3 linked regions of the Homo sapiens genome follow. The protein of the gene in region 3 interacts with the protein of the main gene of each other region in a biochemical or structural test. Each region holds a gene or a part of one and is shown on either strand. Other genes may lie near its edges.

Evidence for each region. The genes of interacting proteins can lie anywhere in the genome.
Region 1: the proteins of UGT1A1 (region 3) and SEC23B interact in a test that uses a peptide from one of them, tested with the Homo sapiens proteins (one study listed by BioGRID).
Region 2: the proteins of UGT1A1 (region 3) and COPZ1 interact in a test that uses a peptide from one of them, tested with the Homo sapiens proteins (one study listed by BioGRID).

Annotation. Positions count from the first base shown.
Region 1 is NC_000020.11:18,545,911-18,552,947, forward strand, and holds part of SEC23B (protein transport protein Sec23B), read left to right. Parts: intron 1-45; coding exon 46-123; intron 124-2,698; coding exon 2,699-2,860; intron 2,861-5,178; coding exon 5,179-5,265; intron 5,266-7,037. UniProt on the Homo sapiens protein: Component of the coat protein complex II (COPII) which promotes the formation of transport vesicles from the endoplasmic reticulum (ER).
Region 2 is NC_000012.12:54,328,102-54,335,138, forward strand, and holds part of COPZ1 (coatomer subunit zeta-1), read left to right. Parts: intron 1-7,037. UniProt on the Homo sapiens protein: The coatomer is a cytosolic protein complex that binds to dilysine motifs and reversibly associates with Golgi non-clathrin-coated vesicles, which further mediate biosynthetic protein transport from the ER, via the Golgi up to the trans Golgi network.
Region 3 is NC_000002.12:233,770,253-233,773,820, forward strand, and holds the end of UGT1A1 (UDP-glucuronosyltransferase 1A1 precursor), read left to right. Parts: intron 1-2,009; coding exon 2,010-2,307; 3' UTR 2,308-3,048; downstream 3,049-3,568. Other genes in the region: UGT1A8 (UDP-glucuronosyltransferase 1A8 precursor), read left to right, coding at 2,010-2,307; UGT1A10 (UDP-glucuronosyltransferase 1A10 precursor), read left to right, coding at 2,010-2,307; UGT1A9 (UDP-glucuronosyltransferase 1A9 precursor), read left to right, coding at 2,010-2,307; UGT1A7 (UDP-glucuronosyltransferase 1A7 precursor), read left to right, coding at 2,010-2,307; UGT1A6 (UDP-glucuronosyltransferase 1A6 isoform 1 precursor), read left to right, coding at 2,010-2,307; UGT1A5 (UDP-glucuronosyltransferase 1A5 precursor), read left to right, coding at 2,010-2,307; UGT1A4 (UDP-glucuronosyltransferase 1A4 precursor), read left to right, coding at 2,010-2,307; UGT1A3 (UDP-glucuronosyltransferase 1A3 precursor), read left to right, coding at 2,010-2,307.

The DNA of each region.
Region 1 (7,037 bases), on a different chromosome or scaffold from region 3:
CTTTTTGTGTGTGTTTGTTTGTTTTTTGGTATTTTCTTTCCATAGTGTCAAAAGTTTGGACAGTATAACAAAGAAGACCCCACTTCTTTTAGGTTATCAGATTCCTTTTCTCTATATCCTCAGGTAAGTAATGTATGTTTCTAAAATAACTACAGAGCAATAAATTTTGATAGAAATTAACTTTATTCTTAGGGTAAAGTGAAGACTTTTTAATGTGTTGAGACTCAGTCTGTAGGTGACAGAGATTGTTCAACCCAAGTCGAATATGTGTCTAGGCAAGACAGCACCCTACGCCCTACAGAAGATAGAGATGACATGCAGAGGGGAGAAAACTCATGCATACATTTTCATGAACAGGCAAAATAGGATCATTGATATAAGGCCGTAAAAAATATCTCTCATGTGTAGAAGTTCTGGGGAAACAGCTACCTCAGCAACAAACCAAGAAAATGAGCACACATGGAGATGAAGATAACAAAACAAAACCACAGTTAGTACAACAAATATTTAATAATATGTCTGTGGTTATTATGTGCATCATAACCAGGAGTGAGCAATAAGCAGCTCCTGAAAGTAACTGCACTCTGCATGAACCAAGCCTTTGGAAGCCATTGGACAAGAGAGAGGAGCAGGAGAAGTAGATGAATTTCCGTCTCCATTGTAACTTAGGAAATAGAGCACAATTCATGGGTGTCTATAAGGATTACAGGAGCTGAGGCCAACTGAGTATTAAATATTTAGCACAATGCCAGTAACCTGTTCAGCACTAAATGTGACCTAGCTCCATAGCAGGTGCCTGGGACTCTGAGGTGTCCATGTGCCAGAGGTTAAAGCTGTGTGGTGTTGTGAGAAGAGCCCTGGACCGGCCAGAGTCAGGTTGAGGTTCCAGTGCTGGCTCCGCAGGGGCTGACCTTAGAGGAGGTTCCAAAGCCCCGTAGAGTTTGGTTTCCCACCTCTAGCAGTGGGGAGTTGGTCTGGTGAAGTGGTTTGCAGTTTTTTTTTTTTTTTTTTTTTTTTTTAAAGCCATGGAATCCTTTCTTTGAGAGGAGCTGCCCTTAAAAGCCAGCACATAAAGCAGACAGAGTTGGTGCTTCTCTGGTTGTGCCTGTGTACCACCCCCACACTGGGTCCCACCAGAGCCCTCATCCCTGGGCCCCTGAGGACTTGATGAAGACTCTAAGAGCACAGCTTGAAAACCAGATGAAATGCTTTCTCAGATTCCTTCTGTCAAGGCATTCTAGGAAAGAGGCCAACAGCCCAGTCTCTAGAGCCAGGCGGCCAGGTGTAGAGTCCAGCTGTGACACTCAGTAGTGGGGTGACCTTGGACAAGTTGCTCGCCCCTCTGTGCCTCAGTTTCCTCACCTGTAAACTAGGGATGGTAAGAGAACTTACCTCATGGGCTTATTGGAAGGATTAAATAGTTCTTGTCAAGTGCTTTGTGACTTGCATGTAGGATGTATTAGATGTCAGCCTTGATTATTATTTAGGAACCTATGATTGAATATTTGGAGTCTCAGGAAGCTTTACACTTCACAAGGCAGCTCATTTTCGTGTTCTGGCAACTCTTTAATGTGAGCTGAAAGTCTGCCCCCACCCCTTCTTCTCATCCTCGAGGGCGAGAACCTATGGTTGCAGTGTCATCCCTTGTCCCTTTCTCCCCTGCACCAACACTTCACCATCCCAGCTTGTGTCCTGAGCTGTCATCTGCTGTTCCTGTGCCTGGAATCCCCTTCCCCCTGGCCCTGTGGCCTCCTCAGCCACGTCTCTCAGGGTGCACTGTCAGTCCCCGGAGCTCTAGGAAGTCTCCTCCTGGCCCTCCACCCCCACTCCCCACTGCTATCCTGTACTCTGGCTCATAACTCGTAGCCCGAGTGTGCCTTTCTCACTGGGCCTGACTTCTGAGAGCAGATATTCTGTCTCCACTGCCTGGCACAGTGACTCTGGAAATAAACATTTCTTTGGCTTTCCTCTTAACTGTGGAAGCTTTGACATACCCAGAGGCCCTTTTCTTAAAAAAATTTTGTATTTTTTTAAAAATTTTTAATTTTTAATTTTTTTGAGACGGAGTTTTGCTCTTGTTGCCCAGGCTGGAGTGCAATGGCCTGATCTCAGCTCACCGCAACCTCCCCCTACTGGGTTCAAGTGATTTTCCTGCCTCAGCCTCCTGAGTAGCTGGGATTACAGGCGCCCACCACCACACCCGGGTAATTTTGGATTTTTAGTAGAGACGGGGTTTCTCCATGTTGGTCAGGCTGGTCTTGAACTCCCGACCTCAGGTGATCCGCCCGCCTCGGCCTCCCAAAGTGCTGGGATTACAGGCGTGAGCCACCACGCCTGGCCAAAGGCCCTTTAAAAAAAAAAATTAATTTTTAATGTGGTAAAACACACATAACAAAATTTACCATCTTAACCATTTTTAAGCATACCGTTGAGTAGTGTTACGTGTATTCCCATTATTGAGCAACTGATGTCTAGAATTTTTCACTTTGCAGAGCTGAAACTCTGTGCTCATTAAGCAACAACTCTCAGTTTTCCTCTTTCCCTAGCCCCTGGTGCCCCCTTATGCTTTCTGTTCTGTGAAACCAGAGAGCCCTTTTCTGGGTTCTCCTATTTCAGAGCCCTGAGGTAGATCTACTCTGTGGGTGTCTAAGAAGGTTACAATTATATGCATTTCTCTTTCCGTTCTTTGTGAATGCAGTTTATGTTCCATCTGAGAAGATCTCCATTTCTTCAAGTGTTTAACAACAGTCCTGATGAGTCGTCATATTACAGACATCATTTTGCCCGGCAGGACCTGACCCAGTCCCTCATCATGATCCAGCCCATTCTCTACTCTTACTCCTTTCATGGGCCACCAGAGGTGAGGCTCTACCCAAATGCTTTCCTGAGGATTGGAATCACCTAACATATATTCTTTTTTAAGCAAATTTACTTAGCAGAACTGTAAAAAAGAAGTAAAATTTGGAGTTTTTATAGTAATTTAACATTATTTCTATTAAAAAATACCTTTAGGAAAATGTCAAAGGACATATAAAGCTATTATTTGTGAAAGGCAGGAATAAATGTAAAAAACTCTAGGAAATAACTTGGATGCTTTCTTTTTCCTTGTGCTTGTATACTTACATCCAACAATTCCATGTCTTGTATCTGAAGGAAAGACTCCTAGATACAGAGTAGACTTTGTGCCAAAAAAAAAAATAGTAAAGGAACTACTATAATAGAGGATCAAATAACAATCCGAATGTTTAATATAGGAAAATAAATAAGTAACCTGAGAAATGCAGTTGACCCTCAGTATTCATGGAAGATTGGTTCCAGGACCTCCCTCAGATACCAGAATTCTTAGATACTCAAGTTACTAATATAAAATTACATAATATTTGCATGTAACCTTGGCACATCCTCCTATATACTTTAAATCATCTCTAGATTAGTTATAATACCTAATATAATGTAAGTACCATGTAAATAATTGTCATACTGTATGGTTTAGGGAATAATGACAAGAAAACAAGTCTGTACATGTACAGTACAGATGCATATTTTTTTCAAATATTTTCAGTCCAAGATTGGTTGAATTTATAGATGTGGAACCCACCGATACGGAGGGCCAACAGTATTCACAAAAAGTATGTAACATAATAAAATAGATAAGTCCTTATGTAAAAATGTTACATGAAAAAAAGTCAAAATAGAAACGTTTCTAAATATTCCCTGCAAAAATAAAGAACTATATGGAAAAAAACAAAATATCAATATTTGTTGTACTTGGGTACACATTTAAAAATTTTCTTTATCGAGTACCACTTACTTTTATTATTGAAATAATTACTAAAATAGCAGGGGGATCACATGACATCAGGAGTTTGAGACCAGCCTGGCCAATGTGGCGAAACCCCATCTCTACTAAACATACAAAAATTAGCTTGGAATGGCGCCAATAATCCCAGCTACTTGGGAGGCTGAGGCTGGAGAATCACTTGAACCCCGGAGGCGGAGGCTGCAGTGAGTTGAGATCGCGCCACTGCATTCCAGCCTGGGCAACAGAGCAAGACTCCCTCTCAAAAAATAAAAATAAAAAAGAAATAATTACATATATAAAAATTATATGTGTATATGTAAATATAATAAATTATATATGTATATATAAGAACTATGTATATAAATATATATGTATATGATTATATATGTATATATAAATATAAATTATATACTTATATAATATAAAATATTACTTACAAATAAATAATAAACGTATTTTTTTTTGAGATGGGGTGTCTGTCACCCAGGTTGGAGTACAGTTGTGCGATCTTGGCTCACTGCAACCTCCGCCTTCCAGGTTCAGGTGATCCTCCCACTTCAGCCTCCTGAATAGCTGGGACCACAGGCACGTGCCACTACAGCCCGGCTAATTTTTTGTGTTTTTGGTAGAGATGGGGTTTTGCCATGTTGCCCAGGCTGGCTTTGAACTCCTGGGTTCAAGTGATCTGCCTGCCTTGGCCTCCCAAAGTTCTAGGTTTACAGGCATGAGCCACTACGCCCAGCCATAATTTATATTTTGTAGTAAACTTTAAAAACTTGTATTAAATGCTGCTTTTCATATAGGTATCCGTATTCTGTCTCATCTACAGAGAATGTCTGTAGAGATTGCTAAAATACATACAAAACTGAGAATATTCAGAATTATTTTTCGTTCCAAGATCAAAAGATATCATTAAGCCTGGACAACATAGTGTGAGACCCTGTCTTTACAAAAAATAAAAAATTAGTTGGGCGTGGTGGCATGCACCTGTAGCCTCAGCTACTCAGGAGGCTGAGGTGGGAGGGTCACTTGAGCCCAGGAGGTCGAAGCTGCAGTGAGCCAGGGTCACATCACTTTACTCCAGGCTGGGTAACAGAGCAACACCCTGACTCTTAAAAAAAAAAAAGGTATCATTAATCTCCGTTCTCAATTGATGAGGAATTATTTGGAGCCTATTTTTCCTACAAAGTTGAGAATGAGTCAGAAGCAGAAAGTGGAAGTATGTCAGGAAGAAAAGGGGTGACTTACTGTGCTGGGCACCATTTGTAAATAGCCTTTGCTGTGGATACCAGGCATGGGATCAGGGTCGGGTGGAAGTGGTTGCTGTGTGGGGAGCAGGGAAGACCAATGCCATCTTTCTCTCTCTTTTTCTTCAGCCAGTACTCTTGGATAGCAGCAGCATTCTAGCTGACAGAATTTTGCTGATGGATACTTTCTTTCAAATTGTCATTTATCTTGGTGAGGTAAGATGATATTATTAATTAATTAATTTCTTTTTGTTTTTAAATTGGAGAAAAGGCATACACATTTAATGTGCACACAAGGAGAATTATTGTCCTTAACTATGGTTTTTGTTTTCTTCTCTTATTTATTAAGTTAGGTTTTTAATGACATTTGTAACCACAGTTTGGGCTTAGAAAGCACCATGGCTTTTATTCTAGTAAATCCCTGGAGTATTTGTATATTTATTAATTTTAATCATATTTGCTGTTAAGTATGGGCCAGGTGCAGTGGCTTATACCTGTAATCCCAGCACTTTGGGATGCTGAGGTGGGCAGATCACCTGAGGTCAGGAGTTCAAAACCAGCCTGACCAACATGGCAAAACCCCATCTCTACTAAAAATACAAAAGTTAGCCAGGCGTGGTGGCACACACCTGTAGTCCCATCTACTTGGGAGGCTGAGATGGGAGAATCACTTAAACCCGGGAGGTTGAGGTTGTAGTGAGCTGAGATCACACCACTGCATTCCAGCCTGGTCAACAGAGTGAAACTCCATCTCAAAAAATAAATAATAATAATAATAATATATGCTGTAAAAAAATCTCAGGTGGTTATTTTAAATCACTGTAAATTATTACCTTCGAAGTTAGGCAAAACTAGTTTTTTCTCCTCAGTAAATATTTTATACATACTGCTGTTCTTTCAGAGTTATATACATACTGCTGTTCTTTCAGAGTTAGTGTTTAGAGCTAAGGTTGTACTTTGATGAAATAACATGGCCCAGGGAACTTTACGCTGTGTCTGTGGATCCCTAGGATGGCTGTGGATAGCTTTCAGTCCATTTCTTTCTCAGTGGGGTTCATGCCCTGAGAAAGGGAATGGCTCCTCTGAATTATTTGCATCTTTATGGCAAAAAATCCTTTAATGAAGATGATGGTGATATTTATATTCAGTGATGCTTTTTCTTCTATTGTATGATCTCTACCTTCTTAAATTGGTTATTGATTTGGTTTCCTAATGGCCAACCATTAGAAATGATTTCTGATGTCGTGAAAAGATATAAATTGTGTTTCAGGATTCCTTCAGTAACTTAGGAAGTGTTAGTTTTCTAATACTCCTAAGTATTTTATAACTTTAAACTTTTTTCAGCATGTTAACACCCAGTCTGCTAGCCACTTGCACGCAAGTGCTAGGCTGTCAGTAATAGTCCTAGACTGAGAGCCGGATGACCAGCTGCTCTTCCCACTGGAACCTTTGGTATCAGTACAGTTGGCCCTCTGTATCCACGGGTTCCACCTCTGCAGATTCAATCAACTGCAGGTTAAAAATAATTTTGAAATAATAATAAAAAATAATACAAATAAAATATACAGCACAGGCCGGGTGTGGTAGTTCATGCCTGTAATCCCAGCACGTTGGGAGGCCGAGGTGGGCGGATCATCTGAGGTCAGGAGTTCAAGACCAGTCTGGCCAACATAGCGAAACCCTGTCTCTACTAAAAATACAAAAATTAGCTGGGCATGGTGGCAGACACCTGTAATCCCAGCTGCTCGGGAGGCTGAGGCAGGAGAATCGCTTGAACTCAGGAAGTGGAGGTTTCAGTGAGCTAAGATCGAGCCAGTGCACTCCAGCCTGGACGACAGAGTGAGACTCTGTCTCAAAAAACAAAACCAAAAAAACAGCACAAGAACGATTTATATAGTTTCTACATTGTATTAGATATTATAAGTAATCTAAAGATGATTTAAAGTGTATGGGAAGATGTACATCGGTTATATGAAATACTATGCCAT
Region 2 (7,037 bases), on a different chromosome or scaffold from region 3:
GTCTCTACTAAAAATACAAAAAAAAATAGCTGGGCGTGGTGGCACGAGCCTATAGTCCCAACTACTCAGGAGGCTGAGGCAGGAGAATCACTTGAGCCAGGGAGGCAGAGGTTGCAGTGAGCCGAGATCGCGCCACTGCACTCCAGCCCAGGCGACAGTGTTAGACTCCATCTCAAAAAAAAAAAAAAGGCCGGGCACGGTGGCTCACGCCTGTAAATCCAGCACTTTGGGAGGCCGAGGTGGGCGGATCACGAGGTCAGGAGTTGGAGACCAGCCTGACCAACATGGTGAAACCCGGTCTCTGCTAAAAATACAAAACTTAGCTGGGCGTGGCCACGCCTGTAATCCCAGCTACTCAGGAAGCTGAGGCAAGAGAATCACTTGAACCTGGGAGGCAGAGGTCGCGGTGAGCCGAGATGCGCCACTGCACTCCAGCCTGGGTGACAGAGCAAGGCTCTGTCTCAGAAAAGTTAAAGAAAAAGAAAGTCTCTCTGTCACATTTCTCTTCCCTTAGTTCTCTGTCTCTGCTTCTTCAGTGAAGTCTGTTTCAGCCTGCTTCTTCCTTATTCTTTTGCTTTAATCTATGCCTAATAGGCTGCATTCACAGATCCCTGCTAACTTGATCAGGTAACCCTGGACTTTGCTTTTAAAACCACACTGGTTCTTTGTTATGGGAAACCTATGTAATGCGGTTAGGGACAATCTGATCAAAGCATATTCTTCTGTCCTTAACTCTACAAGGTACATACATAGCTGCAGGATGTCGAGAAAAAGGGACAGGTAAGCTACAGGGGGTCAAGAAGAACTGTTGATCAAAGTTTGCATTGATTGTGGAATTTCTAAATAACAGTAAGTTCCCTTCTTTTAGGTACTTTACAGTGGGTCACATGGTCACATTTCTTTCTTGAATTAAGTAATCCAGCTCTAGCTTTCAAGCAGATTTGTCTAATCTCTCTCAGGTCTCCTTAGGCTCTAAGGAAAGAGACCCTTTCATCTCTTTTAGTTCCCAATGCTTAATAATAGTGATCTCAGCCTGCATCTTTGGACTTGGCTTCTTCTCTCTTGCTGTATCTGCTGGTTCTCGCTTTTTGAGTTGTGAATGAAGAGGATCTCTGCAGATCACCATTCTCCATTAATAACCTGTGGAATCTTAAAGATAAGGATTTCCCCTTCCTCCTTCCTGCTTTACTTTTTTTCTTTAAAGCTGAATTACTCGGGCCGGGCTCGGTGGCTCACACCTGTAATCCTGAGGTGAGTGGATCACCTGAGGTCAGGAGTTCAAGACCAGCCTGACCAACATGGTGAAACCCGTCTCTGCTAAAAATACAAAAATTAGCTGGGCGTGGTGGCATGCGCTTGTAATCCCCAGCTACACGGGAGACTGAGGCAGGAGAATCGCTTGAACCTGGGAGGCGGAGGTTGCAGTGAGCCGAGGGCCATTGCACTCCAGCCTGGGCAAAAAGTGAAACTCTGTCTTAAAAAACAAACAAAACTGAATTCTGTATCGGTTTAGATCTTTAAATCTTTGTTCATAGGTTTTATTTTTCCTAATCCTCTCTGGATTCACTTTCAGAGTGCTTCTCCAGTGCTTTACAGACTAGACTTCTAATTCTGTACTTTGTCTTACCTTAATATTTTAAAACCATAACCAAATCCTAAATTCTAAGCCTCATTAAAAAATCAGGCCATCCAAAGTGCACAAGGATATGAGTATGTATGGAGGAGGAAACTATGCAGAATATGTCAATGACTTTAAAGGTTGATGTTGCTCCTTGGCCTTTGCTTCCTGAATCATCTTAATGGGGCTTTTGTTAAATTCCTTTGGCCCTAACAGTAGAGGTACTTGGCCTAAATGCCCCCCTCCCCCTGCTCTGGGCAAAGGTATCAATTACATTAAGCCCCTAAAGCACTCCCATCTCGTTCCTGGCAGTCCCCTGTGCCCCTCTCCCAGCTGCGTCCTTGCTGGTGCCTGGCCCCCTCCATTTTGTTAGGAGAAGCAATCTCCTCATTCCTGCGCTGTGGAGATATATTTCTCAGCTAGGGCGCGAGCAGTGCCAGCACTGCCCCCGGTGAGGTCCCTGGCAGCAATAAAAATTTTTATTGTGATTATGTTGGTGTCGGGGTGTCCATCTGGGTTATTGCACACCTAGTTTAATTGATTGAAGTTTAATTTATTGACACTTCAAATTAAATGATCAGAATAAACTGTGCTGTTACTCTGGCCAGCTTGTTTTAATGGTTGATTGCTGGAAGCAGACCTCGGCTTGAACTAAAACCCCCAAAGAGCAATTGACGCTGCTTCTAACTCTCCCCATGTCTTGCCCTCCAAGAAGACCTTGTTATAGATTTCCGACGTATTTATATATATTTTTTCCCTCTTCTTCACAGTGGTGGGAAAGAGTTGGTCCCTGGCAAGGTATAAATTATATCAAAGATCTAGGGGAGCTGTCACATGGTCAGAAGAGGAGGAGGGGGCCTCCATGTGAGGAAAACCAGACCCTTGAGAAGCCAGGTCTGCCTTGGGAGGCAGAGGATGAGTGCAATTATCCAGGTATTTGACGGAGCCTAGTGGCAGGTTTAGGGTCTTTTTTATCTAGATACTTGCTGCTGTTTCTTACTTTACTCCATTGACATGGCTTGATTAGAGTCTGGATGTTGACAAGAAAACAGGTTGTGGAAAGGGAAACTAGAGGAGCAAATCAGATGGAGCAGGGATAAAGAATCAGTACCTATGTACCCACTTGTGCTGGAGTAATTAGGAAGAGGAAAGGCAGAGTGCCCAGGGGACAGCTGATGAAGATGGATTCAGAGAATGAGTCCATGCACTTGTAAGATGCTTGTGCTGGCAAGGGCCCTCTCACATTCTGTCCCTCCTGTTTTTGGGCAGAATAGGTTTCCTTACATCAGATTATTAGGGGGATCTCTCCTGGCCTTACATTCCCTAGCCTGTGTCACCTCTTCTGGTGTTTGACCACACCCATCTCTTCAGGAAGTCCTTCCTGTTGTGTAATCTAAGTTATATATGCTGCAGATGAAGCCTGCTTTTTTATTTGGCTTTTTATTTTCACACTCTTTTTTTTTTTTTTTTTTTTTTTTGAGACAGAGTCTTGCTCTTGTTGCCCAGGCTAGAGTGCAATGGCATGATCTTGGCTCACCGCAACCTTTGCCTTCCAGGTTCAAGCGATTCTCCTTCCTCCGCCTCCCGAGTAGTTGGGATTACAGGCCCCCACCACCATGCCTGGCTAATTTTTGTATTTTTAGTAGAGACGGGGTTTCGCCATGTTGGCCAAGCTGGCCTCGAACTCCTGACCTTGTGATCCACATGCCTTGGCCTCCCAAAGTGCTGGGATTACAGGTGTGAGCCACTGCGCCCGGCCTATTTTCTCACTCTCAATGCAGATATCCCATCCATAGCCAATTGCCCTGGATAGCTCGGTCAACTAATTTTCTGCAACTCCTTTTCTGTTGTGTGGTTTTAGAGGGAGACTAAAACCAGAGGAGAATAGAGCAATTCTGCCTCGGGGTTGATTTGGGGGCATAAATAGACTGAAAGATAACACAGAGTCTGTCAATTCAGTCTCTCAGAGACTAGCTTTTTGTTTTCAGGAGCAAAAGCAGGGAGATGTGGGGGGGAGTAAAGGGATAAATCATGATACAAATCGTGACCCAGGACTCATCAGGAATGGATCTAGCCCCTTTTGATTTTTTTCCTTTGCTGAGTGTTATTTAAGTGAGGGCTCCTGGATTACCAAACTGAGAAGGCAGAATGTTCTAATGGTGCTCTCAGGCCTCAGGTCTGGAGTATAGTCTGATTTCTCCTTATTCAGTTCATCTCTCTTCCCAGCAGTACTGCTTTGTCCCTCATTTCTGTGATTCTTTCACTTCCATGATAGTTGAAGAATTAGGGACTATGTGACCCCTGGGTAAAAAATCCTCCAGCAAGGCCGGGCGCGGTGGCTCACGCCTGTAATCCAGCACTTTGGGAGGCCGAGGCGGGCGGATCACGAGGTCAGGAGTTTGAGACCAGCCTGACCAACATGGTGAAACCCGTCTCTACCAAAAATACAAAAATTAGCCGGTCATGGTGTCACGCGCCTGTAATCCCAGCTACTCAGGAGGCTGAGGCAGGAGAATGGCGTGAACCCGGGAGGCGGAGGTTGCAGTGAGCCACTGCACTCCAGCTTGGGCGACAGAGTGAGACTCCGTCTCAAAAAAAAAAAATTTTCCAACAGACAGGCTTTCTGAGTTTTGAGAAAGGTCCTGAGACTTTGCATTCCTAAAAAGCTTAGGGTTTGGTTGTCTTTGTCCTGCCCATTTCACAGTCATCAAATTCAGCCATTGAAAGCTGGAGGTGGCTGGGCATGGTAGCTCACGCGTGTAATCCCAGCACTTTGGGAGGCTGAGGCAGGCGGATCACCTGAGGTCAGGAGTTCGAGACCAGCCTTACCAACATGGCAAAGCCCTGTCTACTAAAAACACAAAATTAGCCAGGTGTGGTGGTGGGTGCCTGTAATGCCAGCTATTTGAGAGGCTGAGGCAGGAGAATCGCTTGAACCTGGGAGGTGGAGGTTGCAGTGAGCTGAGATTGCACCATTGCACTCCAGCCTGGGCAACAAGAATGAAACTCAGTCTTAAAAAAAAAAAGGGAAAAAAAAAAAGAAAGCTGGAGGGAGCGTGGTTGCTGACCTTTATTCCCCCTGCTGGCTGTTAGTTTTCTCAATCATATTTATTAATTTATGAAGGCCACACACACATTTATTGAATTTATCCAGCATTACTGGATGCCAGGTAGAGTAGAGGGGGTGGTTTACAAAAGTATCACTCATTTCCCCTCTTTTTCCTGCCCCCTCCACACCATCTTATTATCTCCAGAGAGAATCTCATTTAATTCTAAACTCGGCTCTGTGAACTCTTTGAAATCATAAAAAAATTATTTTTATTTATATATATATTTTTTGAGACAGAGTCTTGCTCTGTCATCCAGGCTGGAGTGCAGTGGTGCGATGATCTTGGCTCACTGCAATCTCCATCTCCGGGGTTTAAGCAATTCTCATGCCTCAGCCTCCTGAATAGCTGGGATTACAGGCATGCACCACCATGCCCAGCTAATTTTTTTGTATTTTTAGTAGAGACAGGGTTTCGCCATGTTGCCCAGGCTGGCCTCAAACTCCTGAGCTCAAGCTATTTGTCCCCACATTGGCCTCCCAAAGTGCTGGTATTACAGGTAGGAACCAGCATGCCTAGCCATGAAATCATAAAAAAATTTGTGAATGTATTTTGCTGGGAATAAGGTCCATAGATGTAATTGGTTTATCAAAGGGGTCTGCTGTAACTCAAAAAAGGCATTAACCTTAACTGATCTAGGTCAAGCCTCTCATTTCTCTGATGAAGAAGCTGAATCTCAGAGAAAGGGAAAATTTGAGTTAATGGCTGATCCCCATTATAGTACAAGTATTGTAGCCAGGCATGGTGGTGCATGCCTGTAGTCCTAGCTATTTGGAAGGCTGAGGCAGGACTCCTTGAGCCCAGGAGTTCAGGTCCAGCCTGGGCAACATAGCAAGACCCTGTCTCTATTTAAGAGATGGATTGTAGGAGTTTAGAGACATTTTCTCCTGTAATATCAAAACTCTTGTTGACTGTGCTTTACATGTTTTGGGTCTGTGTCAGATAGGAAGATTGTAGGTGTCTCTTCCTGCCGTCAGTTCTTCCCGAGTCATGTGTTGAGTTTTTTCTTTATAACCAATATTTGGTCTCATGTCAGCTGGGTAGTGTTCTGTGGTACCAGTGGCTCCCACTCTTTCCTGAGCTGTGCTTTTTGAATCTAATCTTGTGTGTATACAGAAATAATTAGCAGGGTGTGGTGGCATGTACCTGTAGTCAGCTACTTGGGAGGCTGAACGGGGAGGATCGCTTGAGCCTGGGAGGTTGAGGCTGCAGTGAGCTGTGATGGCACCACTGCACTCCAGCCTGGGTGACAAGAAATAATAATAATATTAATAAATCTGATATAGGCTGGGCGTGGTGGCTCATGCCTGTAATCCTAGCACTTTGGGAGGTCAAGGTGGGCAGATCACCTGAGGTCAGGAGTTCGAGACCAGCTTGGCCAACATGGCGAAACCCCGTCTCTACAAAAAACACAAAAATAAGCCAGGCTACAAAAAACACAAAAATAAGCCGGGCGTGGTGGGAAGCGCCTGTAATCCCAGCTGCCTGAGAGGCTGAGGCAGGAGAATTGCTGGAACCCGAGAGGCAGAGGCTGCAGTGAGCCAAGATCACGCCACTGCACTTCAGCCTGGGCAACAGAGCAACACTGTCTCAAAAAAAAAAATCTGATATGTAAAAACTGCTCTTCCCTGTCAAAGACTTTAGCTAATTCTTCTTTTCTTTTCATCTGAAGTCTATCGGATTGTGGCTGGCAAATTGGAGCCCTTAACCCCAGAGGAGCTTTTAATTTTAAAAAAGTTGGCACAGGCTGGGCACGGTGGCTCATGCCTGTAATCCCAGCACTTTGGGAGGATGAGGCGGGTGGATCATGAGGTCAGGATATCTAGACCATCCTGGCTAACACGGTGAAACCCCGTCTCTACTAAAAAAAATACAAAAGAATTAGCTGGTCGTAGTGGTGGGTGCCTGTAGTCCCAGCCACTCGGGAGGCTGAGGCAGGAGAATGGCGTGAACCCGGGAGGCAGAGCTTGCAGCGAGCCGAGATCAGACCACTGCACTTCAGCCTGGGCGACAGGGTGAGACTCCGTCTCAAAAAAATAAAAAAATAAATAAAAGTTGGCACAGAGGCCAGGTGCAGTGGCTCACACCTGTAATATTAGCATGTTGGGAGGCCGAGACAGGCAGATTGCCTGAGTTCAGGAGTTCAGGACCAGCCTGGGCAAGATGGTGAAACTCCATCTCTACTAAAATAAAAAAAATCAGCTGGGCATGGTGGCAGTCACCTGTAATCCCAGCTACTGAGGAGGCTGAGACACGAGAATTGCTGGAACCCAGGAGGCGGAGGTTGCAGTGAGCCAAGATTGTGCCACTGC
Region 3 (3,568 bases):
GCTGGGGATAGTGCCTACACAAAATAAAAAGAAGTGGAAAATTTTCAAACATCAGTTTATGCTGACAACCAGGCCATAATAGGTGCTCAATTACTATTGAATGAATGAATGAAAGTTCTGGCCAGGTACGGTGGCTCATGCCTGTAGTCCCAACACTTTGGGAGGCCGAGGCAGGTGGATCACTTGAGGTTAGGAGTTCGAAACCAACCTGACCAACATGAAGAAACCTTATCTCTACCAAAAAAATATAAAAAAATTACCCAGGCATGGTGGTGTATGCCTGTAATCCCAGCTATTTGGGAGGCTGAGGCAGGAAAATCACTTGAACCTGAGAGGCGGAGGTTGCAGTGAGCTGAGATTGTGCCACTCCACTCCAGCCTGGGCGACAGAGTGAGACTCCGTCTTACTTAAAAAAAAAAAAAAGAAGGTTCCAAGAAAATTCATCTTAAGGTTTATGTAAAAGGAAGATGATATTTAACATGATTCATGGCCAAGTACTAATATTACATTATAATAATGTTTCCAAATAACATTATAGATATGTTTAAAGACAGTGTATTAGGCTGTTCTTGCATTGCTGTAAAGAAATACCCAAGACTGGGTAATTTATAAAGAAAAGAGGTTTCATTGGCTCGTGTTTCTGCAGGCTGTACAGGAAGCTTAGTGCTGACATCACTTGGCTGCCGGGGGAACCTCAGGGAGCTTTTACTCATGGCAGAAGGCAATGCGGGAGCTTGCATGTCACATGGCAAAAGCAGGAGCGAGAGAGAGTTGGGGGGGAAGGTGCCACACACTTTTTAATGACCGGCTCTCACAATAACTCATGAAAACTCACTATCAGGAAGACAGCACTAAAGCACAAGGGATCCGACCCCATGATCCAAACACCTCCCACCAGGCCCCATCTCCAGCACTGGGGATTACAATTCAACATGAGATCTGAGTGTGGACAAATATCCAAACTGTATCAGTCAACAGCGATCATAATTAGTCCTGAATAGGAGTGCCTTTTTTTTTCTTTCTTCTCCCTTTTCTTTTCTACTTCCTCCTCCTTTTCCCTCTCCTCTTCAATCTCCTCTTCATTCCTGTAGCACCAAGGGTTGAAGCACCTAACCCGTTTTGGATTGAGATGTTCTGATTGGGCAATGAACACTGTCCAGAATAAACAGAAATCCATTTTGCACTAAGTGGCTGCACAGACCCTGCCTCATGCTAAATCTAGCACCCAGATAGTTTAATGTTTCAATGACTGAATTACAAATATATCATCACCTTGGATTTGGCACTTACAAATGGCTGTTAATTTGGCCAGAGGTGGTTGTTTACAACTTCAAATAGGAGACTATTCATAATTTCTGACGTGACATTTTCCTTTCTTTATTTTACTGTATGAAAATATAATGAAATTTCTCACAAAATATCACTAAAAAGAAAAGAAGAAGAGTAGGAAGCAAGGTTAAAATATTTCTAAAATATAATTTTGGTCTTTCTTTTTCTCCCTTCCTTCCTCCGTCCCTCTCTCCTTTCCTCTCTCCCTCCCTCCCTCCCTCCCTTCCTCCTTTCCTTGCTTCCTTCCCTCCTTCTCTTCCTTCTTTTTCAAGAGATCAATAACATTTATTAAGAATAAGTTTCTTAATTATAACCTTTCAGGTGATAATAGTAACACAGCCTGGGCAACACAATAAGACCTTGTTTCTACAAAAAATTTAAAAATTGGCCAGACATAGTGGTGCATGACTAATTCCAGCTACTCTGGAGGCTGAGGCAGGAGGATGGCTTGAGCCCAGGAGTTGGAGGCTGCAGTTAGCCATGCTTGTGCCACTACACTCCAGCCCGGGCAACAGGGCAAGACTCTGTATCTAAAAACAACAACAACAACAATAATAGAAACAGGTTTCCTTTCCCAAGTTTGGAAAATCTGGTAGTCTTCTTAAGCAGCCATGAGCATAAAGAGAGGATTGTTCATACCACAGGTGTTCCAGGCATAACGAAACTGTCTTTGTGTTTAGTTACAAGGAGAACATCATGCGCCTCTCCAGCCTTCACAAGGACCGCCCGGTGGAGCCGCTGGACCTGGCCGTGTTCTGGGTGGAGTTTGTGATGAGGCACAAGGGCGCGCCACACCTGCGCCCCGCAGCCCACGACCTCACCTGGTACCAGTACCATTCCTTGGACGTGATTGGTTTCCTCTTGGCCGTCGTGCTGACAGTGGCCTTCATCACCTTTAAATGTTGTGCTTATGGCTACCGGAAATGCTTGGGGAAAAAAGGGCGAGTTAAGAAAGCCCACAAATCCAAGACCCATTGAGAAGTGGGTGGGAAATAAGGTAAAATTTTGAACCATTCCCTAGTCATTTCCAAACTTGAAAACAGAATCAGTGTTAAATTCATTTTATTCTTATTAAGGAAATACTTTGCATAAATTAATCAGCCCCAGAGTGCTTTAAAAAATTCTCTTAAATAAAAATAATAGACTCGCTAGTCAGTAAAGATATTTGAATATGTATCGTGCCCCCTCTGGTGTCTTTGATCAGGATGACATGTGCCATTTTTCAGAGGACGTGCAGACAGGCTGGCATTCTAGATTACTTTTCTTACTCTGAAACATGGCCTGTTTGGGAGTGCGGGATTCAAAGGTGGTCCCACGGCTGCCCCTACTGCAAATGGCAGTTTTAATCTTATCTTTTGGCTTCTGCAGATGGTTGCAATTGATCCTTAACCAATAATGGTCAGTCCTCATCTCTGTCGTGCTTCATAGGTGCCACCTTGTGTGTTTAAAGAAGGGAAGCTTTGTACCTTTAGAGTGTAGGTGAAATGAATGAATGGCTTGGAGTGCACTGAGAACAGCATATGATTTCTTGCTTTGGGGAAAAAGAATGATGCTATGAAATTGGTGGGTGGTGTATTTGAGAAGATAATCATTGCTTATGTCAAATGGAGCTGAATTTGATAAAAACCCAAAATACAGCTATGAAGTGCTGGGCAAGTTTACTTTTTTTCTGATGTTTCCTACAACTAAAAATAAATTAATAAATTTATATAAATTCTATTTAAGTGTTTTCACTGGTGTCGCATTTATTTCTTGTTAAGTTGCATTTTCTAATTACAAAAGTAATGCATGATTATGACAGAAAGTTTGGAAAATATAGAGGTTCACACACACACGCCTTCATTGCGTGTGCATGCATAAATGCATGAGAAAAGAAAAATAACCAGTAATCACATCGCCCAGAAATAACCCCAGTTACAATTGTGGCAAATACACATACTTATAAATATTGCAGATATATTAAGTATACCTAGTATTTGCTAACACTCTTTCTTCTACTCTGTCATGAAGATTCTCCCAAGGTGTTTTTGTATAATATTTAATTCATTTTCAGTGGCCAAGCAGTATTCTACTTCATGGATATACCAGGATTTATTTAACCATAACTTCTGGTTGGATTCACTCTTATTATTTTGTTTAATTAAAAAAAAAAGACCTCGGCTGGGCACAGTGGCTCATGCCTGTAATCCCAGCACTTTGGGAGGCCGAGGTGGGTGGATCACCTAAGATCGGGAGTTTG